5 separate regions of the Homo sapiens genome follow, and regions 1, 2, 3 and 5 are each reported to be linked to region 4. Evidence: microRNA targets listed by miRTarBase, many of them from high-throughput screens and not tested one by one. Region 4 holds a microRNA gene; each other region holds the end of a gene's coding sequence.
Evidence for each region. The annotated mature microRNA hsa-miR-346 reads UGUCUGCCCGCAUGCCUGCCUCU and lies in region 4 at 2,791-2,813, shown strand. An mRNA with a match to its seed (bases 2 to 7 or 8) in the 3' UTR can be bound and repressed. Matches are read on the target gene's strand: a 7mer-m8 pairs with bases 2 to 8, a 7mer-A1 pairs with bases 2 to 7 and ends in A, and an 8mer does both.

Region 1: miRTarBase lists SSH3 as a target of hsa-miR-346. The part of its 3' UTR that is shown has no 7-base or 8-base seed match.
Region 2: the mRNA of SETD4 is a reported target of hsa-miR-346. Seed matches in the 3' UTR shown: 7mer-m8 at 3,661-3,667.
Region 3: miRTarBase lists BTK as a target of hsa-miR-346. The part of its 3' UTR that is shown has no 7-base or 8-base seed match.
Region 5: miRTarBase lists IL18 as a target of hsa-miR-346. The part of its 3' UTR that is shown has no 7-base or 8-base seed match.

The regions. Positions count from the first base shown.
Region 1 is chr11:67,310,519-67,316,681 of GRCh38, reverse strand. It overlaps SSH3 (slingshot protein phosphatase 3), which reads right to left. Exons shown (of 14, transcript NM_017857.4): 14 at 4,090-5,091. The coding sequence ends at 4,795. Among named protein-coding and RNA genes, the nearest start is that of SSH3, 10 kb to the right of the region's middle.
Region 2 is chr21:36,031,162-36,037,324 of GRCh38, forward strand. It overlaps SETD4 (SET domain containing 4), which reads right to left. Exons shown (of 12, transcript NM_017438.5): 11 at 4,924-5,090; 12 at 3,380-4,799. The coding sequence ends at 4,956. Among named protein-coding and RNA genes, the nearest start is that of SETD4, 26 kb to the right of the region's middle.
Region 3 is chrX:101,346,680-101,352,504 of GRCh38, reverse strand. BTK (Bruton tyrosine kinase) reads left to right here. Exons shown (of 19, transcript NM_000061.3): 19 at 2,549-3,055. The coding sequence ends at 2,620. It overlaps TIMM8A (translocase of inner mitochondrial membrane 8A), which reads left to right and starts at 3,763. Exons shown (of 2, transcript NM_004085.4): 1 at 3,763-3,972. The coding sequence starts at 3,841. RefSeq lists an enhancer at 3,792-3,841.
Region 4 is chr10:86,263,560-86,267,559 of GRCh38, reverse strand. It overlaps MIR346 (microRNA 346), which reads left to right and starts at 2,772; the gene lies at 2,772-2,866. All of the region lies in intron 2 of GRID1 (glutamate ionotropic receptor delta type subunit 1), which reads left to right. RefSeq lists enhancers at 2,753-3,253, 3,631-4,000.
Region 5 is chr11:112,138,487-112,144,319 of GRCh38, reverse strand. It overlaps IL18 (interleukin 18), which reads left to right. Exons shown (of 6, transcript NM_001562.4): 6 at 503-1,060. The coding sequence ends at 724. Among named protein-coding and RNA genes, the nearest start is that of IL18, 23 kb to the left of the region's middle. RefSeq lists an enhancer at 823-992.

The sequences.
Region 1 (6,163 bases), not on the chromosome of region 4:
GGATTACAGGCGTGAGCCACCCCGCCCGGCCACAAAAGTGCTTTATAAAGCATTACCTGGAATGGGGGCGGGGGGGAGCCCTCAGACAACCTAAATGTTCATCAATAAATGACCACTTAACTGATGGATTCCATAAAATAGAACATGTGTGGTTATTTTTTAAATGAGGCAAATCTTTTATGTACTATTTGGGGGGAAAACTCAAATGGCGTTTTTCCTCTGCTCTCACACCATCACAATTATCAACACGTAAGACTTTGGTGACCAAAGATATTGGGTTGGCCAGGCGCAATGGCTCACGCCTGTAATCCTAGCGTTTTGGGAGGCCGAAACGGGTGGATCACCTGAGGTCAGGAGTTCGAGACCAGCCTCGCCAGCATGGTGAAACCCCCATCTCTACTAAAAATACCAAAAAAAATTAGCCAGGCATGGTGGTGGGCACCTGTAATCCTAGCTACTCGGGAGGCTGCGGCAGGAGAATCGCTTCAACCTGGAAGGTGGTGGTTGCAGTGAGCCAAGATTGCGCCATTGCACTCTAGCCTGGGTGGACAAGAGTGAGAATCCATCTCAAAAAAAAAAAAAAAAGGTGTGGGGTTTTTCTCCCCACACACCAAGCAACAGACCAGCTGGGTGGCCTCCAATTCAATTCCAACTCTGTCTACCGGGAGATAGTGTCGGATCGCACAGGTTGAGGCTCAGCCCCCAAGACTGCATCTCCCTCCCCTCAGATCCCAGTCAAAAGTCCAGGCCTCCAGAACTTCTGCCTGACCAGCTTCAAGTTGGGGTTCCCACGATCCCCTCTTTCGGTTTGATTAATTTGCTGGAGCAGCTCACAGAACTCAAAGAAACACTTACGTTTAGTGGCTTATTATAAAGGATACTACAAAGGATAAAGGTGAAAAGATGTGCACGGGGGAGGGTGCGGAGTGTGCACACCCTCCCTAGGTGCACCACCGGGGAGGAACCTGCACATGGTCAGCTACCCAGAGCTCCAAGAAGCCAGTCCTCTTGGGTTTTTAATGGAAGCTTCATGACATCAGCATTCCTTACACCAGGGTATAGAGTGAGGAGGAGGGTCTCTCTGGGGAGGGTCTTATAACCCACAATCTGAAAGTGAGGGTGAACAGTAGAGCCCTGCCTTGGGGCAAGGGAGAGGAGGGCAGAATGTCAAGAGGTTGTTTCCTGCGGCCTGCTCCTGAGGCCTGACACACTCAACATTAGAACAAAAGACTGAACAAGGGCTATGAGGGTTATGAGCCAGGAGCCTGGATGAAAACCAATGTATATATAACACCACGGTACCGATGTGGAACTCTGATATGAACCAATTTTCAAAGTGTAGAATAGTATGTTAACATGCTATTGTCTGTATTTTTAAAAAATACACATACCAATATATTTGATTACATAAGCATGGGGTACCTGGAGGGCATCAAAGGCAGCTGGTAACAAGTCATTGCCTGAGTAGATGTGAAGGACTAGAGGACAGAGTAGGAGTGAGATTTACTTTTCATTTTATATCCTTCTTATTATTTTTTGCCCCTTTAGCAATTTGGGTGAGCTTTGTGTATACATAGGGTTTTTTTTATTTTTATTTTTTTTTGGAGACGGAGTCTCACTCTGTCACCCAAGCTGGAGTGCAATGGCGCAATCTTGGCTCATTGCGACCTCAGCCTCCCAGGTTCGAGCAATTCTCCTGCCTCAGGCTCCCAAATAGCTGGGATTACAAGTGCACGCCACCACACCCAGCTAATTTTTGTATTTTTAGTAGAGACAGTGTTTTGCCACATTGGCCAGGCTGGTCTCGAACTCCTGACCTCAGGTGATCCAACCACCTTAGCCTCCCAAAGTATTGGAACTACAGGCGTGAGCCACTGCACCCAGCCAATAGGGTTCCTAATTGTTTGTAGTTTTGTTTTGTTTTGTAGAGATGGGGTTTCACCATGTTGCTCAGGCTGGTCTCGAACTCCTGGGCTCAAGCAATCCGCCTGCCTCAGCCTCCCAAAGTGCTGGGATTACAGGCATGAGCCACCACACCCGGCACCCTCTTGTCTGTATTTTTGATGCGGTTTCCCCTCCAGTCTTCATTTCCCTGTTTGCTGACTTCTTACTTCTTAGAATCCTCCTGGATTCTAGTGGATTCTAGTGAGCCCCACAGCTCTGAGTTCCTGATTGGACCTGCCTTCTGAGATGCACAGGCTGCAGGAGGGGCAGGGCCTGGCCTTGGCTTACCCCGACACTCTCACCACCACCCCACCCATCTGCAGCCCTAGGCCAGGAATACTGAAAGGGCAGCCTGGGTAGGACTCCTAGTTGGCCACAGAGTGGGGGGTAGCCCCCAGTGTTTGCTCAGCAGGATGGATCAAGAATCAGAACTAGCTTGCATGTACCCCACATCTTGTGACCCTTAGGCATACCACCCAGATAGGTGCCAAGGATTCCTCTTCTGGAAGGGAGGTAGAGGCTAATCTAGCAATGTCTAGATAGCATGTATTGTTAAAATGTATCAAAGTGTAGCCAGGCGTGGTGGCCCTGTAGTCCCAGCTACTCAGGAGGCTGAGGCAGGATGTCTTGAGCCTGGGAGGCAGAGGTTGCAGTGAGCTGAGATCACCCCACTGTACTCAATAATAAATAAATAATAAATAATATAAAATGCATCAAAGTGAAGAGGGGTACTTGGGGATTTCCAGGTCTAATCCCTTTATTTTACAGAAAGAAACAGAGACTCAAAGCAAAGTAATTCATAAGTGGTGAAGCTGGGGCTAAATCCAAGTCTCCTGCCACTGCGCACTTCAGGGTTAGAGCAGTGCTAGGAGTCCCACCAGGGCCTGGGTGAGAGATTCATTCTTAAAACTGGGCGTGAAGTCTCAGTCACTGAGAATGCTTGGTGCCAGCTCCCATCTCTAAGGACTGCTTTGAGGGAAGGAGTTGAATCCGGCCCCTTCCCCAAACCAGGGTAATGTATCATAGAGCAGAGAGCATACATAATCTTGGGAAGAGGGATAGAAGTGACAAAGATGGGCCAGGCGCAGTGGCTCACGCCTGTAATCCCAACACTTTGAGAGGTCGAGATATGCAGATCGCTTGAGCCCAGGAGTTCGAGACCAGCCTGGGCAACATGGTAAAACCCCGTCTCCACAAAAAATAAAAGATAAAAATTAGCTAGGCATGATGGCACATGTAGGTAGTCCCAACTACTCAGGGGCTGAGGCAGGAGGATCCCTTGAGCCCGGGAGGTTGAGGCTGTAGAAAGCCAAGATCATATCACTGCACTCTATTCTGGGTGACAGAGCAAGACCCTGTCTCAAAAAAAAAAAGGAAGTGACAAAGATACAACCACTTAGCTAGGTGTGCCTGTGGTCCCAGCTACTCAGGAGGCTGAAGTGAGAGGGTCTCTTCAGCCTGGGAATTCAAGGCTGCACTGAGGCATGATCGTGCCGCTGCACTCCAGCCTGGGCAACAGAACCAGACTCTGTCTCAAAAAAAGAAAAAAAAAGATGGAATGACTAACTCTTCTTGGACACTAAAGTTGAGCAGAAGGAACCCCTGGGCAGGAGGGGAAGTGTCACCAAGGGTCCTTCTTCCCAGGCCGCAATAGCCTGGCTTGGAAAGTCAGGCCCTTTGCTTTGTAGCAGGAGGAAGGTGATTCTTGGGACCCAAAACATGCCAGAGAACCTGGCGCCGAGTGTCCCAAGGAGGCTTCGCTTTTGGAACAGGCTTGGTCCTGTCCAGGTAGGCACTTCCTCATGAGTAACCCCTTCCAGCTCTCACAGTGGAGCCACATGCCTGCTGCCCGCTGACGACTTCTTCCCTTGCCCGACCTGTCTGAGCGGGTGGGTGTGAGCAGGTCATATTTACCAGGCCCTGCCCCAGGAGATGGGGAGATAGCACTGACTTCCTCTCTTCTCTTACCCAATCTTCCTCCCACGCCACGCCCAAACACGGCACTCCCCCAAATAGGTCTGTCACGAGCCACCTTGGAATTGTGAGGAGACTGCTGGGAGGAAGGGGCGGCCACCTTCCCCAGCCAGCAGAGAAGGGTCTGACTGCAACACAGATGGCTTCATCGTCACATTGAAAATAACCAAATATGAAAATGTGTTTTATTTCTCAGTACAAAGCCAGATACTGTAAGGCTATGAAAAACTGACTAGCCAGAGGCCAGAAAGGACAAAAAGAAGACTATCTCTGGCCTGGTGCCCTGTGATCTGGCGTGGTGTCACAGGAGGTCTGGGGACAGCAGCAAAGACCTGGACCGGTGGAGGTGGATGAGGGAAGCGATCTGCCAGCCCTTCCAGCCTCCCGCGGCTGGGGCCTGAGGATCCTGCCTGCCTTTGGGGGCCACTGGTTGCCTGGCCTGGCTGGTTCCAGGAATGAACTGGGAGAGGACAGGAGGTGCAGGGAGGGGGCGGGGGTGGGAGGCGTGACCCTTTTTGCACGGGAAGCTCTGTTTTCATTCCGTGCCACAGGTGAGTGTGCAGGGCTAGAGTTGAGAATGAAACTAGGGTGCTGTTGCCCCCAAAGGTACCTTCAGTCCCTCTACCACATCCCAGTTAGAAAGTCTTGAGCCCTTGGACAGGCAGACATGGGCCTGGGACTTAAGGCTGTAGGAGGTGAGGCTGTAGTGACAGGGGTGGGAGGTGAGGCCGTAGTGACAGGGGTGGGAGGTGAGGCTGTAGTGACGGGTATGGGGCGGAGCTGAGAGGAATGTGTGCGGCAACAGACGTGAGGGTGTTTCTCCAAGGAGTTGTGGATCCTCTTCAGTGTCAGGGGAGCGTGGGCATGTGTGAGGGCTCAGGCCTCGCCCTCCTCTCCACTGTCATGCACGCTGGCCTGTCTCACCACCTTCCGGAACCTGGGCGTAGAGGAAATGCAGGGCTCTCCCTGCCCCTGCCCCTGCCCCTGCTCCTGCTCCTGGAAGGCCTGGGTCCGGTTGGCCACCACGGCACTGCCCTGGAGGGTAACCACTGACTGGCGGGACTTCAGGGCAGGCTGAGGCCCCCTGTCCACCTGCTGGCCTCCCTTGGTCCTTGCAAGCTGTGGGAAGGGCTGCAGAGGCTCTTCATGTGAAGACTCGTGGGAAGAGAAGACCTGGACAGGTGTGAGGATACGGAAGCCATGGGAGGCCTTTCTGGGGCAGGGGTGCCCAAGCACAGAGCCGGGAAGATCTGGGGCAGGGGTGCCAAGCACAGAGCCAGGAGGAGGCGAGGGCCGGAATGTTTGTGGCACGCACGCCAAAAGCCAAGCTGTCCACAGCCACGCTTCCTCGGGAGGGAGGACAACACCCCAGCCCTGCTGCCCCGCTCCTTGAACCCTACCTGCTTGTAGCTTCCTTCTGGCCCCCAGAAGCCCTCCTCAGCTCCCTGGAGACCCAGGCCTCCCTGCCCTCCTCCCCTCCTATGCTTTCTCTGCCTTTGCGTAGGCAGCCGGCAGGTGAAACCCGTGCCGGCACCAGCCCCTGAGCTGGGCTGGGTGGATGCGTGCGTCCGGTGCTGGGTGAGGACCTCTTGCCTTTAGCAACGCCCACACCCGCCCATCAACCCACCACGCCTCCCTATCCTTCCCCACCCACACCTCCTCCAGGAAGCCTCTCCCAAATGTTCCTGCCCTCAGTGGATGCTCCTTCCTCCAAGTCAGCCATTTGGCCTTGAGTCCCAGACAGGGCCTGGCTCCCAGGCTTAGGCTTGTGCCCGCAGCACTGAGCATCAAGGGTGCTGACTTAGGCAGGACTTGGGCGGCGTGAGTGCGCAGACTCCTCCCCACCCCATCCTTTGAGGTGCTGCTCCTCAGACCAGGGAGGGGCTTCAGAGATTAATTTAGCCTCCCCACCATGGGGTTAGAGATCGCCCCCAGGGCCTGCAGGGGCCTGTGGAGCTCATGGCCTGGGGAGGCAGCCCTGCCCCTGAGACAGCTAGTCCTGTGGTCAGGCTGGAACCTGCCCGCGATCGAGGCTGGGGCTGGCTCACCCAGGAGCCTTGGAAACAGGCACTGCTTCCTGCCCTGCCCCCGTGACCCCTCTCCAGCCTGTGCCTACAGTGCCTCCGCCTGCCCTCACTGGATCTCAGCTGCTCTCAGGGGCCCAGGACGTGGCTGGTCCCCATCTTCAGGGGTATTCATGGGACAGGCTGGAGACGCCGGGTGCTAAGAGATACTGGGCTGACTG
Region 2 (6,163 bases), not on the chromosome of region 4:
AGGCTGGTCTCAAACTTCTGGCCTCAAGTGATCCTCCCACCTCGGATAGTAACAGCACCTGCTACTATCTACCTTGTGGAGTGGTAGCCTTACATTTTTATTAAATACATTCTATTTTGGGGAGTTTTTTGTTTTTTTGAGATGGAGTCTCACTCTGTTGCCTGCGCTGAAGCGCAGTGGCATGATACCAGCTCACTGCAACCTCCACCTCCTGGGTTCAAGTGATTCTCCTGCCTAAGTCTCCGGAGTAGCTGAGATTACAGGTGCCCGCCACCACACCCAGCTTATTTTTTGTATTTTTAGTAGAGACAGGGTTTCACCATGTTGGCCAGGATGGTCTCGATCTCCTGACCTCGTGATCTACCCGCCTCGGCCTCCCAAAGTGCTGGGATTACAGGCGTGAGCCACCGTGCCTGGCCCAGGTGTTTTTTTTTTTTTTTAATTTTCTTATAGCCTAATGTTAAAACTACATAGAATAAAAGGATATTAAAACAAGAAAATAGTGAAAGGTTACAACAGGAAGATGAGAAACACCCTCTGAAAGGTGAGAGGGATGAGCACGGGAGAGAAATGTCTGCTGGTGGGGGCAGGTGCTGGCGTGCTGTCAGTGGAACTCTAGCATGTCTGGGGGACACTGGCATGTGTTGTGTGGGGGACACTGGCGTGTTGTGCAGGGGACACTGGCATGTCGTGTGGGGGACACTGGCGTGTTCTGTGGGGGCAATGGTGTGTTGTGTGGGGACACTGGCGTGTCGTGTGGGGGACACTGGTGTGTACACGGGACACTGGCGTGTCGTGCGGGGGGACACTGGCATTTTCTGTGGGGGCAATGGCATGTTGTGTGGGGGACACTGGCGTGTTGTGTGGGGGCAATGGCGTGTCGTGTGGGGACACTGGCGTGTCGTGCGGGGGACACTGGTGTGTACACGGGACACTGGCGTGTCGTGCGGGGGGACACTGGCATGTTCTGTGGGGGCAATGGCATGTTGTGTGGGGGACACTGGCGTGTTGTGTGGGGGACACTGGCATGTCGTGTGGGGGACACTGGCGTGTTCTGTGGGGGCAATGGCGTGTTGTGTGGGGACACTGACGTGTTGTGTGGGGGACACTGGCGTGTGCACGGGACACTGGCATGTCATGTGGGGGACACTGGTGTGTTGTGCGGGGGACACTGGCATGTTCTGTGGGGGCAATGGCGTGTTGTGTGGGGGACACTGGTGTGTTGTGTGAGGACACTGGTGTGTTGTGTGAGGGGCACTGATACGTGTGGTGAGTCGCTGTCCTACTGTGGGGGGAATCTGATGTGTGTGGGGAGCACTGATGTGTGTGGGGGTCACTGTCCTACTGTGGGGGTCGCTGTCCTATTGTGGGGGCTGCTGATGTGTGGGGGGGTTGCTGTCCTACTGTGGGGGGCACTGATATGTGTGGGGACCACTGTCCTACTGTGGGGGCTGCTGTGTGTGGGGGTCGCTGTCCTATTGTGGGGGCTGCTGTGTGTGGGGGTCGCTGTTCTATTGTGGGGGCTGCTGTGTGTGGGGGTCGCTGTTCTATTGTGGGGGCCGCTGATGTGTGTGGGGGTCGCTGTTCTATTGTGGGGGCCGCTGATGTGTGTGGGGGTCGCTGTCCTATTGTGGGGGCCGCTGATGTGTGTGGGGGTTGCTGTCCTGTTGTGAGGGCCGCTGATGTGTGGGGGTCGCTGTCCTGTTGTGGGGCGCTAATATGTGGGGGTCGCTGTCCTGTTGTGGGGCGCTGATGTGAGGAGTCGCTGTCCTGTTGTGGGGCGCTGATGTGTGTGGGGGTCGCTGATCTATTGTGGGGGCTGATGTGTGTGGGGGTTGCTGTCCTATTGTAGGGGCCGCTGATGTGTGGGGGTCACGTCCTGTTGTGGGGCACTGATGTGTGGGGGTCGCTGTCCTGTTGTGGGGGCTGATGCATGGATACATTGGCCGGGCTGGAGAAAGATGCACTGTCCCTGCGCCTTCCTTCCTCCGTTTTGTTCCTTTTAGTTCCCACAGGACTTTCTGTACTGTGGGAGAAAGCTCTTTTACAAGGGATCCCACAGGTGGCATTCCTGACAAGGCTGTTCAAATATCAGCCCACAAGTCATGGGTTCTGTTACACGTTCCCCCTCGGGACAAAACCTGCCGCCCAGCATTTACCTATAGTACGGAAGGCAGCAGCTGACCACCGAGGAGGAGCCAGAATCGCCTCTGCTGGACCCCATGGGCCCTCAAGGGGCACGGCCAGGAGTTTCGGTGAGAAAGTCATTTTCACACAATTACAGACCTATTTCCTCAAACATCACTGCCAGCCTCCACAGAGGAGGGCCTCCCTCCTTGAGGAACACCCTCCACAGAGGAGGGCCTATTCTATCCTTAGCTGGAAAGATGATCGAGGAATGCCTCCAATCGCCCTTAACTTCTTGCTGTCTGTCCCCTCGGGCCAAGTCAGCAGTTGGAGGTTTACCACCCAAACTCAGAACTAGACACCAACAGGGGTGCGAGTCTTTAGGAGCCTCAGGCCCACCCAAAGCACCAGCAAAGAGAAAACCAAGAAAGAAAGATGGCTAGGGGGAGTCCGGGGAGGGCGGTGGTGATTAGACAATAAGGAAGAAAATAGCGCCGTCGGTTAAACAGCACTGCACGCTGCCTCACCCTAGATGGGGACAGATGGGTTTGCTGCCCTAAGAATGACTTGACGAGAACAGCCTGCCACCAGCGTCTTTTGAGTCCAAAACAAAAGAGCAGCCGAAAGGAAGCGTATGGACTGTGAGCGGTGGTTTCACCCTGTGGCCAGACTGCCCAACAAGGGGCCACAGGTTTCTTGCAAGGGGTCCGTGACTTCACATAACTAGCATTGTCTACAGTCTCATACTATTCTTCGAATAAATGCAGATCTGCTGTGCTGATGGAGTATTACTCAGCTGTAAATAAATGCAGATCTGCTGTGCTGATGAACTATTAGTTGTACATGTTTCTGGGCAGCTGCTTTTTGTCACTGTGTATTTTTTAATTTTGCTTTATTATTTTTAGAGACAGGGTCTCACTCAGTTAGTTGTCGCCCAGGCTGCAGTACAGTAGCACGATCCTGGCTCACTGCAACCTCAAACTCCTGGGCTCAAGCCATCCTCTGGCCTCACCCTTCCGAGTGGCTGCAGCTACAGGCACGGACCACCCTGCCCAGCTCATTTTTTAAATTGTTTTGTAGGAACGGGATTGTGGGGCGGGGGGACGCATTACATCACCCAAGCTGTTCAGAACTCCTGGGCTCAAGAGATCCTCCACCTCAGCCTCCCCTGAAGTGATCACAGGTGTGAGCACCACGCCCACCCACTGCGCAGTTTTTCTAATCACTGGACAAGGAAAGCACAATGACCATGTAGGGTCTGCGAAGTTTTTAATGTTCAAGGGGCTGTCCGTTTTGAAAGGTGAAAAGGAATTAACATATTTAGGTCCACTCATAGGGAAGAGGAAAAAGAAATTCTGGCATAGCACAGGGGTCAGGAAACTATGGCCCACCACCTGTCGTTGTCAGTAGTTTCCCTGGAGCCCAGCCATGCAAATGGTTGACATGCTGCCGATGGCCGCTCTGCAGAATCGCTGGGACTAAGACCACAGGTCCAGAAAGCTTCAAATGGTTACTATCGGGCCCTCCACAGAAGTCTGCCCACTCTCCATACAGCATATGATGAAATACACTGCATTATACTGAATATTGAAAAAAAATATACTGCAGCTACTGAAAAATAAACACAAAGTGTATATACAAACAGGGAAAGATGTTCAAGAAATCATGAGAAAGTTTTATTTTAAACTCTGCCTGCCTCCTGAGGCCAGCAGGTCCCGTTCATTTGGTTTCACTAGGCTCCAATGAGAAAGGAATTTGAGTTCTTGGGAAGAATGAACCCTGGGAGGGTAAACAGGACTCTGGGCAACATTGTCTAAGCGGCGTCCCCAGCACGGGCCTGAACAGGACCAGCAGCCCCTCCGTTACTTACGCAGGCAGTTCCAAGGCCACAGGCCGCTGAGAGCTGTGCAGGAAGCTCTCCCCACCCAAGGTCTGCGTGGTATCAAAACTCAAGAATAAGAACAGAAGCCAAACCACCACCATGGTTCGCCATCAGCTGACCTACACTGAACCCCAGAATCAAGCAGACAGGCCCACCACGGCCCAGCTGTGCAGGATGAGCCAGCTCCCCAGGTGGAAAGGCCTGCCCAGGAAAGTCGCCAGAACAAAGCAGAAAGAGCCGCTGGCTGAGCTAGTCATTCTTCCCAAGTGAATAATTAGACAAGCGCCACCTTGAGAGGCCAGGAGCATGCTTAGAGGACATTCCCTCCTCCTGGAAGCTGTGTGTCCCCTAGGGGGCTCTTCAACACCCACCTCAGTGCAGCCACACAGGGAAGGGCTGGCGTCTGGGCCACCCTGGCGGGGATCCAGGACTACCTCACACTGCCCCACACCCACCGCCAATCTGCCCCTTAACCCAATGGTATCAGAGCATCTTAAAAGCACAACCACTAGACTCTGATAGCTGCTGTGTCAGATAAGAAGCAGGCCCCGTGGTGACAGACCACACACGGACGCAGCTGGCTCCTGGCTGCCTCACAGTCCGCCTCTCTCCTCACAGTTCAGCACTTTATTCGGAAGAGCATTAGACCTGCCATCCAGACAGCTTGTCCACCTTCACTCACAGCCTCACAATCCCAGAACCTGTGCTGCCCCCTGCAGAAATCCTGCATGTCCTGGGGGCAGCCACCACCCCAGCCCATGATGATGCTCTTCAAAATTAACTTTTGTTTCTGTAGGAAAAGCAAAAGGAAAAGGATTAAGTTCCTAATTGTTGAGTAGACACAACTCATCGACTCTAAACTATATAAATTTAGTCCATCAAACCTTAGTCTAAAATGTGTGACTAACACCCACCAGAGGAGGTGACCAAATGCGCTTCGGTGAAATCAGGTAAAAGCTGTTTGCAAACTGTGCAGGGTCTCGGCAGATGCCCTGAGAATCTTTAGCTCTTCCGTCCACAAGGATTCCACCAAAGTTAGTTGGTTTATCAGGGCCTCTTTTTCATCCTTCATATGAGACACCTGAAAGTTATTTTTTAATTATTGTTATTGTAGTAAAACATATATATATATTTCACAGAACGTACGTACCTTTTTAACCAATTTTAAGTGTATGGTTCAGCAGCATGAAGTACATTCACATTGTTTAGATCCACTGCCACTCTCCAGCTCCAGAACTTTTTCTATCACCCAAACAGAAACTCTACAAGCATACATCAATAACCCTATTCCCCTCTTCCCCAAACCCCCCGTCACCTCTACTCCACTCTCTGTCTCTACGAACTCACCTGTTCCAGGAACCTCACAGAAGTGGATCATACAGCATTTGTCCTTTTGTGTCTGGCTTATTTCATTTCCAATAATGTCTTCAAGCTTCATTAAAATCACTCTTTAAATCCCAGGCATGTTTTCATACGAATAAGCTGATTTCTCATTTAACTAAAACATTTACTAAATAAACACATCAATGAGAAAGAATGCTTGAAGTCACACAGTAACTTTTACTTTTTGCCTTTTAATAAAAAGTAAAGGCAAAGATATGGAATCAACCTAAGTATTCATCAACAGATGAATAAAGAAAAAGTGGCATATATACCCAGTGAAGTACATTCAGCCTTATAAAAAAGGAAATTTTGTCATTTGTGACAACGTGGATGAACCTGGAGGACATGCTGTCACACGGCAATAAGCCAGCACAGAATGACCAATATTGCATGATCTCACTATACATGGACTCTAAAATCATCAAACTCATAGAAGCAGGGAGTCAAATTGTGGTCACCAGAGGCTGAGGGGTTGGAGAGGGATTAGGGAGATGTTGATCAAAAGACACCAAATTTCAGCTGGACCAGAGGATTAAGTTCAAGAGATCTATGGTACATCGTGGTGACTACAGTTAATAACAATATATTATGTACTTGAAAATTGCTAAGTGCAGATTTTAAGTGTTCTCACCACAAAAAAAATAAGTATATGTGATCATGCATATGTTAAATAGCTTGATTTAGCCATCCACGATGTATACCTATTTTAAAACATCATGTAGTCCACTATAAATATATACAATTTTTACTGACCAATTAAAAATAAAGAGG
Region 3 (5,825 bases), not on the chromosome of region 4:
GCATCAACCACCACGCCAGGCCTTGCACACATTCTCTGACCTTGGCCTGCAACTTGATCATCTGATGGCCAGAGGCTTTCCCAGGCCCACTCCGATTCTCACTAGAGTGTCATTAGTACACTCCAATGCCAGCTCAGCTTTAGGGAGTGAGGTGTTGTGGGGCCATGTCATCTAGCATAAGCAGGCAGCCAGAGGCATTCAGACAAGTGAATGGGCATTACAAAAGAAAAGTCATGAAAGTTTGTTCATTCCTTTGTGTGTCATTGGCCCTTTCTTCTACTTTATTAGCTGCCAACCGTTTCTGGCTGAGGTCCTAAATGAGATTTTTTTTTTTTTTTTTTTGAGACCGAGTCTTTCTCTGTCGCCCAGGCTGGAGTGCAGTGGCGTGATCTCGGCTCACCGCAAGCCCCGCCTCCTGGGTTCACAGCATTCTCCTGCCTCAGCCTCTCGAGTAGCTGGGACTACAGGGGCCCGCCACCACGCCCGGCTAATTTTTTGTATTTTTAGTAGAGACAGGGTTTCACCGTGTTAGCCAAGATGGTCTCGATCTCCTGACCTTGTGATCCACCCGCCTCTGCCTCCCAAAGTGCTGGGATTACAGGCATGAGCCACAGCGCCCGGCTAAATGAGATTTTTTTTAAAACCTACTGCTTGAAAGGGAACTAAAACAGGTAGTGGGTTTTTTGTTTGCTTTGTTTTGTTTTGCTTTTTAATATGGTGCATCGTGGGGTATGTGGGTAGGTGTGGTATTTTGGAAATAAGGAAATCTGTCCTACTACTATTAAACTGCTTTGCTCCTCTTACCTCGAGTTCTTCCCAAGATGCCTTCTCTACTTTTCAGTAGATCCTTGGCAACCTAAATTTCTAGTAGGAAATAAATGCTCAACTCTTCAGAGTGTCCAACAAGTGCATATGTGAATCTGGAGCCTTCTTGGTGAGGTGAAAAGTGGGTATCTGGATCCGAGCATGGCTGGTTTCCCTCGAACAAATGACAGATCACAGAGAAAGTGCAGAAAGGGAGGACTCCTTCTTTCTTCTGTGTGATGCAGGATTAAGGGTGATTGGCTATGCTCCCTCCCAATCAGGACCTTCTTACTCTGCTAATTAAAAATGATTTCAGACAGGTACTTTATCCACAGCCTGTTTAAAGGAGTGGTCAAAATTGGATGCATATCAGAAACCCTAAGGAGCTCTTAAAAATGCAGATTACTGGCTGGGCATGGTGGCTCATGCCTGTAATCCCAGCAGTTTGGGAGGCCAAGGCAAGCGGATCACGTGGTCAGGAGATCTAGACCATTCTGGCCAACATGGTGAAACCCTGTCTCTACTAAAAATACAAAAATTAACCAGGCGTGGTGATGTGTGCCTGTAATCTCAGCTACTCAGGAGGCTGAGGCAGGAGAATGACTTGAACCCAGGAGGTGGAGGTTGCAGTGAGCCGAGATCCTGCCACTGCACTCTGGCCTGAGTGACAGAGCGAGACTGTGTCACAAAAAAAAATTCAGGTAACTGGGACTTTTCTCCAGAAATTCTGATTAGCTATGCCTGAAGTGGAACCCAGAAATCTCTTTTTAAACTTCCCAGGAAATTCTGATACTCAGCTAAGTTTAAGAATCACTGAGTCAAGGAATCAAGAAATTGATGACCATTGGTTCTAACAGATTGAGAGCATTCTGGCATGAATGTTCCCTGAACCACTAAATACCAAATACCTCGGGGGCTTATGGGCCATGGCCATCAAAAAGAACCTTAGTCGTAGGCCGGGCGCGGTGGCTCACGCCTGTAATCCCAGCACTTTGGGAGGCTGAGGCGGGGGAATTACCTTAGGTCAGGAATTCGAGACTAGTCTGACCAACATGGTGAAACCCGGTCTATACTAAAAATACGAAAATTAGCTGGGCGTGATGGCGTGCACCTGTAATCCCAGCTACCTGGGAGGCTGAGGCAGGAAAATCGCTTGAACCTGGGAGGTGGCAGTGAGCTGAGCTCACACCACTGCACTCCAGCCTGGACAACAGGGTGAGACTCTGTCTCAAAAAGAAAAAAAAAAAAAAACCTTAGTCTTTTTGTTACCAGTGGTAAAAAAAAAAAAAAAAAAAAAAAGGTCCCAGGTACTCAGAATCCCTGCTCAGTAATACAGCCTGTGGTTTTGAAATATTAATCACTAAAAATTATCACATGGGATTTCTGTTCTGCCAACCACTTGAACTTGTTTGGTAGCCATTTTTCACTTGAGGATCCAAAATAAGAATGTGTTGTATACAGTTACATAATGAACTTGCCCTCAATTTTGATCAGTGTGATTGTCAGTTTAATTTGCAAATTGTTCTTATCACACTAATAACCTGAGTTACTAAAGATGAAAAGTGCACAAAGACTTTATGGAGAGCTGCTATTTCTTTTTTTTTTTTTTTTCCTTTTGTAATCGACAGGGCATGCTACTGGGCATAGAGCATATATTTAATAAACATTTGCTGCTTACTCATTGCATTTCCCTTGAATTCTGGATTCTAGCCACTCTAACACTTTACTTTTTCTTTGGTTTTAGAAAGCAGATGAGCGTCCCACTTTCAAAATTCTTCTGAGCAATATTCTAGATGTCATGGATGAAGAATCCTGAGCTCGCCAATAAGCTTCTTGGTTCTACTTCTCTTCTCCACAAGCCCCAATTTCACTTTCTCAGAGGAAATCCCAAGCTTAGGAGCCCTGGAGCCTTTGTGCTCCCACTCAATACAAAAAGGCCCCTCTCTACATCTGGGAATGCACCTCTTCTTTGATTCCCTGGGATAGTGGCTTCTGAGCAAAGGCCAAGAAATTATTGTGCCTGAAATTTCCCGAGAGAATTAAGACAGACTGAATTTGCGATGAAAATATTTTTTAGGAGGGAGGATGTAAATAGCCGCACAAAGGGGTCCAACAGCTCTTTGAGTAGGCATTTGGTAGAGCTTGGGGGTGTGTGTGTGGGGGTGGACCGAATTTGGCAAGAATGAAATGGTGTCATAAAGATGGGAGGGGAGGGTGTTTTGATAAAATAAAATTACTAGAAAGCTTGAAAGTCTTTGGTATCTCTATTAATCATGCAGCCTCCCTGAAGCGCCCTATCTCAGTATTCCAGAAAGCTGCTGTGTAGCATTAGTTTGGCATATTCCTACACTGAGAACTCGACAGGATCCTCCAGGTTTAAGCCCTCTTGTTAACTCCTGCCTCTGAATCAAAGATGCATTAAGCAAAAACAGTGCCTGTCACAGCACGCATGCAATGTTATTTGAATGAATCTGAAAGTTGGGCACAAACTGCCATAGCCTCATTTCCCTACGTCGGGAGAGGAAAACTCCATCAAAAAACGAAAGCCAGGGGCCCAGGATAGCCAACTAATCGACCCAGTCAACTAACTGACCCAGTGCACAACTCTGGTAGCTCAGAAAACGCGGGCTAATTTGGAAGTGGACAGGGGCGGAGCTGTGGGGCCAGCACGGAATGGATCACGTGGTCTGAAGTAACTTCCTTTTCTCCTTTCTTTTCTTTTTGGAGTAACATCTCAACGGCACCTCGGCTCTGGGCTGTAAGCCCTGCGATCTCAAGGCGCAAGGCTGGGCGCAACGGCAGGGTTGCGGGGTTACGGGATTGCGGGGTCCGGGGAGTGGAACCCGCCGACTCCGGGAACGAAGCACCGGCGCCAAGGTGTGGGAGGCGGCGGGGTGGAGTTGGACGCCTGCCTCGCGCCGACGCAGTGCACTCACGGGGGCGGTCCCAGAGGCAGCTAGCTGTGGTTCCGGTTCCGTCGCGGAGACACGTGAAGGTCGGTGCGGAGTTCGTCTCTGCAAGCTTGGTCGCCCTGGGATGGATTCCTCCTCCTCTTCCTCCGCGGCGGGTTTGGGTGCAGTGGACCCGCAGTTGCAGCATTTCATCGAGGTAGAGACTCAAAAGCAGCGCTTCCAGCAGCTGGTGCACCAGATGACTGAACTTTGTTGGGTGAGGAGCCTGGGGCTGGGACCTGAACACTGTACCTACTTTCCCTCTGTCCTTGTACCGCGGGACTCGCGACAACGTCGGGGATTCGGGGTGGGGGGCGGGCACCTGGCAGCAACCCTTGATTTTCTCAGGTTCCTGTGGCCTAGCCGGATGGGAGAAGGGTGACTCCGCTTCTCTGGGGACTGTCATTCCGGACCTCGGCTTTGTTGGTGTAGAGGACTGGGTATCAAAGAAGACTTATGCCACTGGACACCCAGCACTTTCAGGCACCCGAGGTTGAAGCTGCCTAGTGCTGGTCACCAAGACTGATCGGAGCCCCCAGTACTGGGATTTTATTTTTGGCAGCCCGAGTCCCAGAGAGTCAGTGAATCAGTGAATCTGCTATTCCTGGACTCCTCGGGATTTACCTTCATTACCCAGTTCTAACCCTCTCCGCTGAAAAATGAGTGGCTCCAGCCCAGTAACTATAAAAGTGGTGTAATCTCTTCCAACGTACATACTTATTTGCTTTCTTGTTGGATTGTTGTGTAATACCAAGCCGTTTTGGGTCTGAAGGTTGAGGAATTGAGCCTGCCCTGTGAGGGGACTTTGGCAAAAGGGTGGAAGGTATTTGCAGCTTGCCAACAACGTGTTCTGCTTGCCAAGGACAGATCTCCCTTAATGTACACAATTCACAGAATTCAGAGGCCAAGGATAATTTTCCTTGGAATTAGAGGGTCTGAGGCTTGTGTACATGGCAGAGAATAATGAACGAAATTTTTGAACCACTTAACTTGAACTATATACAGTCATTGGTTTCCATAGGCCCTTTCCCATAAACTTACAGTATTGCTGGACTATGACACCTACCAGATGCTTACTTAACTCTGGTCTGCCTTGGACCAGAGTGCTTTGATTCTTTTTTAAAAATATCTGTGATTCGTTACTTTGGGGCTAGGAGGGCGTGTGGTTAAGTACTATTGCAAGAATCTGTAAGCTGCCCGGCGCGGTGGCTCATGCCTGTAATCCCAGCACTTTGGGAGGCGGGTGGATCACTTGAGGTCAGGAGTTCGAGACCAGTCTGGGCAACACGGCGAAGCCCTGTCTCTACTAAAAATAGAAAAAATTAGCTGGGCGGGGTGGCACCCGCCTGTAATCCCAGCTACTCAGGAAGCTGAGGCACGAGAATGGCTTGAACCTGGCGGAGGTTACAGTGAGATCATGCCACTGCACTCCAGCCTGGGTGACAGAGCCAGACTCTGTCTCAAAAAAAAAAAAGAAAAGAAAAGAAAGGAAAAAAAACTGTAAGCTATGATGAACCCCTTAGGAAAATGCATTCAATTTTCCATTCATCATGACAGGATTCAAGAATCTCTAGCTTAAGTAGACAAGGTTATAGAATCTCAAGTCATATTTTTTTTCTTCTTTGGTAGGTTTTAGGGTACCTTGCTGAAATGATTTATCCTTTCACCCTTTTATTCTGTAGTTAACTTAAAGGCATTTAGTTCAAACAGCATTGTGGAGTTAAAACCAAATTCATTGAAAGGTTACTTCACTTATATTTTGCCATTTTCTTGCTCTGGAATATCCCAGCTCTGCCATTTTCTGGCCCTATGATTTTGGGTAAAGTATCTCTGTGCCACAGTTTTCCTCTTTGTAAAATGAGGATTTATAATAGTATCTATTCCATAGTATTGTTGTAAGAATTTAATGTAAGGCTAGAGAACATTGCTATATACTTGGTCAGCTGCCAAATGTGAACTATCAGTAACATATCAGATATTATTTTTAGGTAAAGTTTTTTTTTCTCTAAGCAACAAAAAGGGACCCCTGCCCCCAACCGTCTTTTTCTTTCCAAGTTCCCTTTGTGATTC
Region 4 (4,000 bases):
TAGGCTGCATTCACAGGTCTAGACCCTGCTGTTCACCCTGGGGGGATGAATCAGCTTCATTCTTCCTGAACAAAAGCTCCTGGGTTGCCAGGGAGATGTAGGGGCTGCCGCCTGTACTTCCTGGAGCTGCAGTTTGGTGTCAGGAAGAGATGGGCACTCAGCAGCCCCAGGGCGGGGCTGGGTTGAGCTGCCATCACCGCTGTTGTCCTTGTTGAATGGGACCGTATGTGGATCAGAGACAGCAGAGCCTCTGAGTTTGCACAGATTTGGGTTTGAATGTGGCTCTGCCCATTGATGGCTACATGACTTTCAGCTGCAAGCTGCCCTTTTGAAGCCTGTTTCCTCAAATTGAAGTTGGGATGATAATATCCAGCTTGCAGGGGCTGAGATATTTCATGAGGTAACAGTTGGAAGGCATTCCATCTATTCATTTATTTAATACATGTTTGTGGCTGTCTGCTGTGTGCCAAGCACTTTCCCGGGGTGGGAATCCATGCCGTGACGTGATGCTGACGTGGCCCTGTGCTGAGTGGTCAGCCTGGCTGGCACCATGCTAGGCACACAGAGAGCCTCACTAAATGGTATTTACTCTTGTTCTTGGGGACAGAGGCTCTGTGGGGATAGGGGAAGAGTCCTCCTTGGCTTGGTGTTTGCCTGGTCTTGGGCATTTTGGGGAAGTGGAGGGGTAGGGGGAGTCCCACTACCCAATCCTATAGCCCGGCAGGAAGTAGTAGGCCTCATGAGAAAACTCTGGGGACTTAAGCTCCATGCTGCCTGTGAATCCCAGGGTTCAGGGGACCAAGAGGGTTTCCTAAGCCTGTGAAAGCTGCTGCAATTGGTGTAGAGGCCACCATGGAGCCACAGTCCAGGGGCCCAGTGGGCCTTTTCTTATCTCTCTTGCCAGGCCACAGAGTAGGTTCTGGAGAATTGGGCCTGGCGGCTCTGAGCTGGGCTGACACTCATCACTGACCTGGGATCATGGGAGTTGGGCAGGAGGGCCCTCCCCTGGGAAAGAATCCTCTCATCTGACTGTGGTGTGTAAAAGATCAGGAAGCCTCGAACCAGATTAGGGCAGGGCTGGGGACAGGTGCAGAGCCTGGGGGCTCCTCAGCTGTGTAGAAGTGCTGGGAAGGCATGGTGTATTTGGGGGTCAGATGTGGTAGTTTTGGGGTTATTGATGGAATTTGGGGGTAGGCAGGGATGCCGTGTGTGAATGCTCTGGGAGGAGGTTTGCAGGAATTAGAGGGATTTGCTGGAGGAGCTTTCTGATGGCGTCACTGGTGCTGTGCATTGGGGGTTGGTGGCAGGTCCTGGAGTCATAGCTGGGGTCATAGGTGTGTTAGGGAGGCAGTGATGATGGGTTATCAGGAGGGGGAGGATCACTGATGAGGTGGGAGGTGGGAGCAGCGAGGATGGAATGGTGCTGTTGGCCAGGGGGTCCTCAGTGACTACCCCAGCAGGGTGGCTTCAACTGTGAGCTCTGGTGTGTCTGTTTCTTGTCTCAGCGCTCCACGGGGAAGTTTAGACCTGAGCCTCTGAGAGGGGTCACTGGGCAGAGAGACCCCTGGATCTCAGAGGGCTGAAGGGGGAGGTGAATGGTGGGCATGGGTGGCAAGGGGCTGAGCCAGGGCAGTGGATGAGTCAGGAGTATGGGAGGCTGGGCTGCTGATCAGCGACTTTGCAGATCCTCAGGGTCATTACTTGCTGTTGTTGCTGGGGAAAGTTGCAAAATGAAAATTAACTGTCAGAGAAGATTGATTCGTTTGATGCCTAACCAGGAGCAGCCTTTTATTGCTGTAAAATGTTGATTTCCTCTTGCCTGCAATGACAGGTGAGTGTTAGTGGCACTGAAGGAAGACAGATCCCTGAACAGAACTTGCAGAAACCATCCCCTGAGGGGCTCAGCCCTCTTCCCTCCAACCTCTATGGCTGCAAGAGCAAGAATGAGTGTCTGATTTTACTCATGGGGTGAGAACACATCTGTGGGTGTGCCAGCCACGTGGCAGGGCTGGTGGTAAGACCTGGGGCTCTGGATTCAGACACATCTGGATTCAAATCCACGCTGGGCCACTTAATAGCTCTATGCCTGTGGGCAAGCCTCAGTGTCCTCATCTGTAAAATAGAAGGGTCATACCTAATTAAGTCCTAGATTTTAAAGCACTTGGCACAGTGCCTGGCACAGGTTATCAGGGCTGGGTCCAGTTGAAATGATCAAATGCTGCTGAAATTCAGAACTCGGATCACTTTTGCAATAGCAGCCATCGGTCGGGGGCAAGGATGGGACAAAGGCAGGACAAGAGTCAAGAGAGGGAGCCGTCAGAGAAGTGGAGTGGGAGGTGAACGAGGATAATTTGTTATAATGGAACCATGCCTGAGGTGGGGGTATGGGAGCTCATGCCTATGGGGGGCCGGGCAGGGTGGGCCACTCAGTCTGCAGGCCTGGGCCAGGCTAGCTGCTCAGAAAGGATGAGTAGCCCAGGTCTGTCCCTGCCCAGTGTGTGGCCAGGGGAGCCTCTCCGTGCCCATGCCACTTGTCTTGCTTAAGTGTGGCTAGGAAGGAAAAGGCTGGGCAAGTGCAGCTCCTGCTTGGCTGATCCAGGCCTTGATGGCAGATAGCTATGTTCAGAGAGTTTCCTGGGGGCCGGGGAGTAGCCCTTCTCCTCTAGGAGCCTCTTGTCAGCAAGGAGTGAATTTGGCTGCAGGTTGGAGGGCTTCCTCGTCTGCAGGGCCAACCAGGAAGGGGCGGCGGTGACACAGACGAGCGTGTGGGAGGTCTCTGTGTTGGGCGTCTGTCTGCCCGCATGCCTGCCTCTCTGTTGCTCTGAAGGAGGCAGGGGCTGGGCCTGCAGCTGCCTGGGCAGAGCGGCTCCTGCATGGGACATGGCTCTTCTCTCTGGTTACAGACTCACCACTTCGCTCCCAACCTACCTCCACAGTCAGCGTGGGGCATCAGGCCAGGCCCTCCTGAGCCAGAGAAGATTGTGGAAACCTTGCTCTCCAGGTGGAGTGGCCAGCCTCTGGGAGGTGTTCAGGAATGGGCTCCTAGAGAGTGTGGTGAGCTCAGGCTGGATCTGAGCTGGGCAAAACTGCTTCCAAGGGGGGCCCACATCCAAGGGACTGAGTGGTGGTGGGATTCCTCCCTCTGGGGTAGTCTCCAGCCTATGGGGCAGGGGTACAGGGTACAAGGGGCAGACAGATGTAGGGAGGACAGGCAGGAAGTTCCAGCAAGTTTCCGGGCCAAGGAAATGTTGTAGAGAACCAGAGGATGATAGGAAAGAACAAATGAAGGACAAATGAAAAGGCCTGGCCAGGCTCCAGAGTGGGGCGTGTTGAAGTCTGAGGGTCATGGGTCTCACCTGTTGGTGGGGCTGGGCTCTTAGCTCCAGCGTGGGGTGGTACTGCAGCTGCTGGGATGGGAGAGGAGGGTGCCCAGCAGTACCTTCTGTGGGTCAGCGTGACTGGCAATGAAAATGAGGTGAATGAACATCCCAGGAGCTCATGCTGCCAATAAAACACCTGACCCGGCAGGTGGGCAGCCTGGATTCGGCTCCCAGCTCTGCTGTGAACTTGCAGAGGCTCCTGGACAAGTCCCTTCCCCTCTCTGGCTTTCTGTTTGCTCCTCTGCAAAATGTGAGCCAAATATTTTCAAGCAGTGGCACTCTTTGTTCAAATGAAATATTCCATGAAACCCACTTTTCTTAACTTAGTGAAGTGGGTTGAGGTGGGGAAACCCAGTGGTCTAGCCCATCTCCAAAGCCTACTTCCAAACATAAACAATTGTCCTAGATTTTAAAAATTAATATTTTAAAACCAACTCTTATTGAGCACTTGATATGTACCAGGCACTGTTCTAAGCACTTTATAAATAGTGACTCAATTCTCACAACCCGAGGGGGAGGGAGGTGGGGAAACAGGCATCAGAGGTGAGGTGACATCTCAAGGTCCCACAACTAGTGAGTGGCACAGCAGGATTCCAGCCCAGGCAGTGGGGTCTAGGACG
Region 5 (5,833 bases), not on the chromosome of region 4:
TCAAGGCTGCAGTGAGCTATGATTTCACCACTGCACTTCTGGCTGGGCAACAGAGCGAGACCCTGTCTCAAAGCAAAAAGAAAAAGAAACTAGAACTAGCCTAAGTTTGTGGGAGGAGGTCATCATCGTCTTTAGCCGTGAATGGTTATTATAGAGGACAGAAATTGACATTAGCCCAAAAAGCTTGTGGTCTTTGCTGGAACTCTACTTAATCTTGAGCAAATGTGGACACCACTCAATGGGAGAGGAGAGAAGTAAGCTGTTTGATGTATAGGGGAAAACTAGAGGCCTGGAACTGAATATGCATCCCATGACAGGGAGAATAGGAGATTCGGAGTTAAGAAGGAGAGGAGGTCAGTACTGCTGTTCAGAGATTTTTTTTATGTAACTCTTGAGAAGCAAAACTACTTTTGTTCTGTTTGGTAATATACTTCAAAACAAACTTCATATATTCAAATTGTTCATGTCCTGAAATAATTAGGTAATGTTTTTTTCTCTATAGGAAATGAATCCTCCTGATAACATCAAGGATACAAAAAGTGACATCATATTCTTTCAGAGAAGTGTCCCAGGACATGATAATAAGATGCAATTTGAATCTTCATCATACGAAGGATACTTTCTAGCTTGTGAAAAAGAGAGAGACCTTTTTAAACTCATTTTGAAAAAAGAGGATGAATTGGGGGATAGATCTATAATGTTCACTGTTCAAAACGAAGACTAGCTATTAAAATTTCATGCCGGGCGCAGTGGCTCACGCCTGTAATCCCAGCCCTTTGGGAGGCTGAGGCGGGCAGATCACCAGAGGTCAGGTGTTCAAGACCAGCCTGACCAACATGGTGAAACCTCATCTCTACTAAAAATACAAAAAATTAGCTGAGTGTAGTGACGCATGCCCTCAATCCCAGCTACTCAAGAGGCTGAGGCAGGAGAATCACTTGCACTCCGGAGGTAGAGGTTGTGGTGAGCCGAGATTGCACCATTGCGCTCTAGCCTGGGCAACAACAGCAAAACTCCATCTCAAAAAATAAAATAAATAAATAAACAAATAAAAAATTCATAATGTGAACTGTCTGAATTTTTATGTTTAGAAAGATTATGAGATTATTAGTCTATAATTGTAATGGTGAAATAAAATAAATACTAGTCTTGAAAAACATCATTAAGAAATGAATGAACTTTCACAAAAGCAAACAAACAGACTTTCCCTTATTTAAGTGAATAAAATAAAATAAAATAAAATAATGTTTAAAAAATTCATAGTTTGAAAACATTCTACATTGTTAATTGGCATATTAATTATACTTAATATAATTATTTTTAAATCTTTTGGGTTATTAGTCCTAATGACAAAAGATATTGATATTTGAACTTTCTAATTTTTAAGAATATCGTTAAACCATCAATATTTTTATAAGGAGGCCACTTCACTTGACAAATTTCTGAATTTCCTCCAAAGTCAGTATATTTTTAAAATTCAGTTTGATCCTGAATCCAGCAATATATAAAAGGGATTATATACTCTGGCCAACTGACATTCATCCTAGGAATGCAAAGATGGTTTAATATCCTAAAATCAATTAACATAACATACTATATTAATAAAGTATCAAAACAGTATTCTCATCTTTTTTTCTTTTTTCACAATTCCTTGGTTACACTATCATCTCAATAGATGCAGAAAAAGCATTTGACAAAATCCAATTCATAATAAAAATTCTCAAACTTGAAAGAGAACATCATAAAGGCATCTATGAAAAACCTACAGCTAATATCATACTTAACGATGAAAAACTGAATTATTTTACCCTAAGATCAAGAATAATGCAAGCATGTCAGCTCTTGCAACTTCTATTCAACATTGTACTGGAGGTTCTAGCCAGAGCAACCATACAATAAATAAAAATAAAAGGCACCCAGATTAGAAAGGAAGTCTTTATTTGCAGACAACATGGTTCTTTATGCAGAAAACCGTCAGGAATACACACACATGTTAGAACTAATAAGTTCAGCAAGGTTGCAGGTTGCAATATCAATATGCAAAAATACATTGAAGGCTGGGCTCAGTGGAGATGGCATGTACCTTTCGTCCCAGCTACTTGGGAGGCTGAGGTAGGAGGATCACTTGAGGTGAGGAGTTTGAGGCTATAGTGCAATGTGATCTTGCCTGTGAATAGCCACTGCACTCGAGCCTAGGCAACAAAGTGAGACCCCGTCTCCAAAAAAAAAATGGTATATTGGTATTTCTGTATATGAACAATGAATGATCTGAAAACAAGAAAATTCCATTCACGATGGTATTAAAAAAATAAAATACAAATAAATTTAGCAAAATAATTATAAAACTTGTACATCGAAAATTTCAAAGCATTCTGAGGGAAATTAAAGATGATCTAAATAATTGGAGAGACATTCTATGATCACTGATTGGAAAACTCATTCAATATTGTTAAGATAACAATTGTCCCCAAATTGATGCATGCATTCAATTTAGTCTTCATCAAAATTCCAGCAGGGTTTTTGCAGAAATTGACAAGCTGTACCCAAAATGTATATGGAAATGAAAAGACCCAGAAGAGCAAATAATTTTTTAAAAACAAAGTTGGAAAACTTTTACTTCCTAATTTTAAAACTTACTATAAACCTAAAGTTATCAAGACCATTTAGTACTAATACAAGATATATAGATCAAAGGAACAGATTTCAGAGTCCAGAAATAAACTCTAATATTTATGGTTAATTGATTTTTGACAAAGGTGCCAAGTCAGTTTGATAGAGAAAATAAGGCCAGGCACAGTGGCTCATGCCTGTAATCCCAGCACTTTGGGAGGCTGAGGTGGGTGGATCACTTGAGGTCAGGAGTTCAAGACCAGCCAGGCCAACATGGTGAAACCCTGTCTCTACTAAAAATACAAACATTAGCCAGGTGTAGTGGCATGTGCCTATAATCCCAGCTACTCAGGAGGCTGGGGCAGGAGAATCTCTTAAACCTGGGAGGTGGAGTTTGCAGTGAGCCAAGAGTGTGCCACTGCTCTCCAGCCTGGGCAACAGAGCAAAACTCTGTGTCATAGATAGAGAAAATAGTATCTTTTCAACAAATGATAATGGGACAATTGGATATCCACATGCAAAAAAAAGATTAACTTAGACCCTTACCTTATACCTTATACAAAACTTCATTCAAAATGAACCAGAGACATTAATGTAAGAGTGGAAGCTATAAAACTTTTAGAATAAAGCATACAAGAAAATGGTAAAATCTTGGGTTCAGCAAAGGTTTTTTAGACGTGACCCGAGAAGCATGATCCATAAAAGAAAAATAATTAACAAATTTGACTTAACCAAAATGCATTATTTTGGGGTTGAGGGGGAACTGGGTGAAGGATACATGGGACATCTCTCTACCACTCTTGCAACTTCCTGTGAACCCTTAATTATTTCCAAATAAAAAGCTATTCTTTTCTTTCTTTAGAGAGAGTGCCTCACTCTGTCACACAAGCTGGAGTGCAGTGGTGTGATTATAGCTCACTGCAGCTATAATTCAAGTGATCCTCCTGCCTCAGCCTCCCAAGTAGCTGGGACTAAAGGCACATGCCACCATACCTGGCTAATTTTTTTTTAATTGTAGAGAAGGGAGTCTTGCTATGTTGCACAGAGTGGAAAATAAAAAGTATTTTAAGAAAGAAATAACTTTTGCCCTCAAAAGACACCATTAAGGTAATGAAAAGCGGCCAGGCAAGGTGGCTCATGCCTGTAATCCCAGCACTTTGGGAGGCCAAGGAGGGCGGATCATTTGAGCTCAGGAGTTGGAGATGAGTCTGGCCAACATGACAAAACCCTGTCTCTACCAAAAATACAAAAACTAGCCAGGCATGGTGGTGGGCGCCTGTAATCCCAGCTACTCAGGAGGCTGAGGCGGGAGAATCACTCGAACCTGGGAGGTAGAAGTTGCAGTGAGCCAAGATTGTGCCAGTGCACTCCAGCCTGGGCAACAGAGTGAGACTCTGTCAAAAAAAAAAAAAAAAAAAGAAGGAAAGAAAAGAAAGAAAGAAAAAGAGAAAGAGAGAGAGGGAGGAAGGAAGGAGAGAGAGAAAGAAAGAAGAGAGAAAGAAAGAAAGAGAAAGAAGGAAGGAAGGAAGAGAAAAGCCACAGACAGGGAGAAAGTATTTGGAAATCACATACATTGCAAAAAAACTTGTACCCAGAATATACAAAGAACTCTTAAAAACAAACCAAATAAAAAAAGACTCAATTTTAAAATGCGCAAAAGATTTCAATAGACATTTTTCAAAGAAGATATACAAATGGCAAATGAAAAGATGCTTCACATCGTCAGTCATTAAGGAAATGCAAATTTAAAACATAATGAGATACCATTTCACATCCACCAGGAAGGCTATAATCAAAAAGACAAACAGTAGCAAGTGCTAGCAAGGAAGTAGTGAAACAAGAATTCTCGTTCCTTACCTGCGGGAATGTGAGTTAGCATATAGCCATTTTGGAAAACCATTTTTTATTTTTTATTTATTTATTTATTTTTGAGACAGAGTTTCGCCCTCTCGCCTAGGCTGTAGTGAACTGGCTTGATATCAGCTCACTGCAACCTCCACCCCCCAGGTTCAAGCGATTCTCCTGCCTCAGCCTCCTGAGCAGCTGGAATTATAGGCAGCCACCAGCACGCTCAGCTAATTTTTTTTGTATTTTTAGTAGAGATGGGGTTTCGCCATGTTGGCCAGGCTGATCTCAAACTCCTGACCTCAGGTGATCCACCCGCCTAGGCCTCCCAAAGTGCTACTATTACAAGTGTGAGCCACCGGGTCTGGCCGGAAAACCATTTTTCAGTTGCTCAAAAGGTTAAGTATAATTTTTTTATACAACTCAGCAATTCCATTCCTACGTATCTACTCAAGAGAAATAAAACATATGTGCACACAAACACTTGTACATTAATGTTATAGCAGCATTATTCATAATAGCCAAAAAGTGGAAACAGGCTAAATGTCTAAAAACTGGTGAAGGGATAAACAAAATGTAGGAGATCCTTAATGGAAGACAAATCCTAACAGAAAGCAGTAAAATACTTATATGAGCTATATCACGAATGATATAGCATAACTTCAAAACATTATGCTAAGTGAAAAAAGCCACGCGTGAAAGGTTATATATTATATGATTCTACATATATGAAATGTCCAGAAAAGGCAAATCTATGGAGACAGGAAAATAGATTCATGTTTGCCTAGGGTTAACGGATATGAAGAAGCTTCATAAAAAGATATGATCTTATTGGAATGATGAAAAAAACATTTTCAACCTAGATATGGTGGGCTGGGCATGGTGGCTCACGTCTGTAATCCCAGCACTTTGGGAGGCTGAGGCAGGAGGATCGCTTGAGTCCAGGGGTTCGAGACCACCCTGGATAATATAGCAAAACCCTGTCTCTACAAAAAAGTAAAAAATTAGCTGAGCATGGTGGTGCACACCTTGTAGTCCCAGCTACTCAGGAGGCTGAAGTGGGATCACTTGAGCCCAGGATGTCAAGGCTGCAGTGAGCCAAGATAGTACCACTGTACTCCAACCTGGGCAACAGAGTAAGACCCTGTCAAAAAAAAAAAAAAAAAAACACCCACTACATATGGTGATGGTTGTACAACTTGGTGAATTTACTAAAAATTATTGTCTACATAAGATGGGTGAATTTGTGGTATACAAATTATACTTCAATAAAAGTATGTTTTAAAAGAGACAAAAAAGCCAATTAAATATTTATATTAGCTTTTATTGTTTTTTCTTTCCATAAAAATAAAACATATCTGTTAAGAAATTTTAGGAA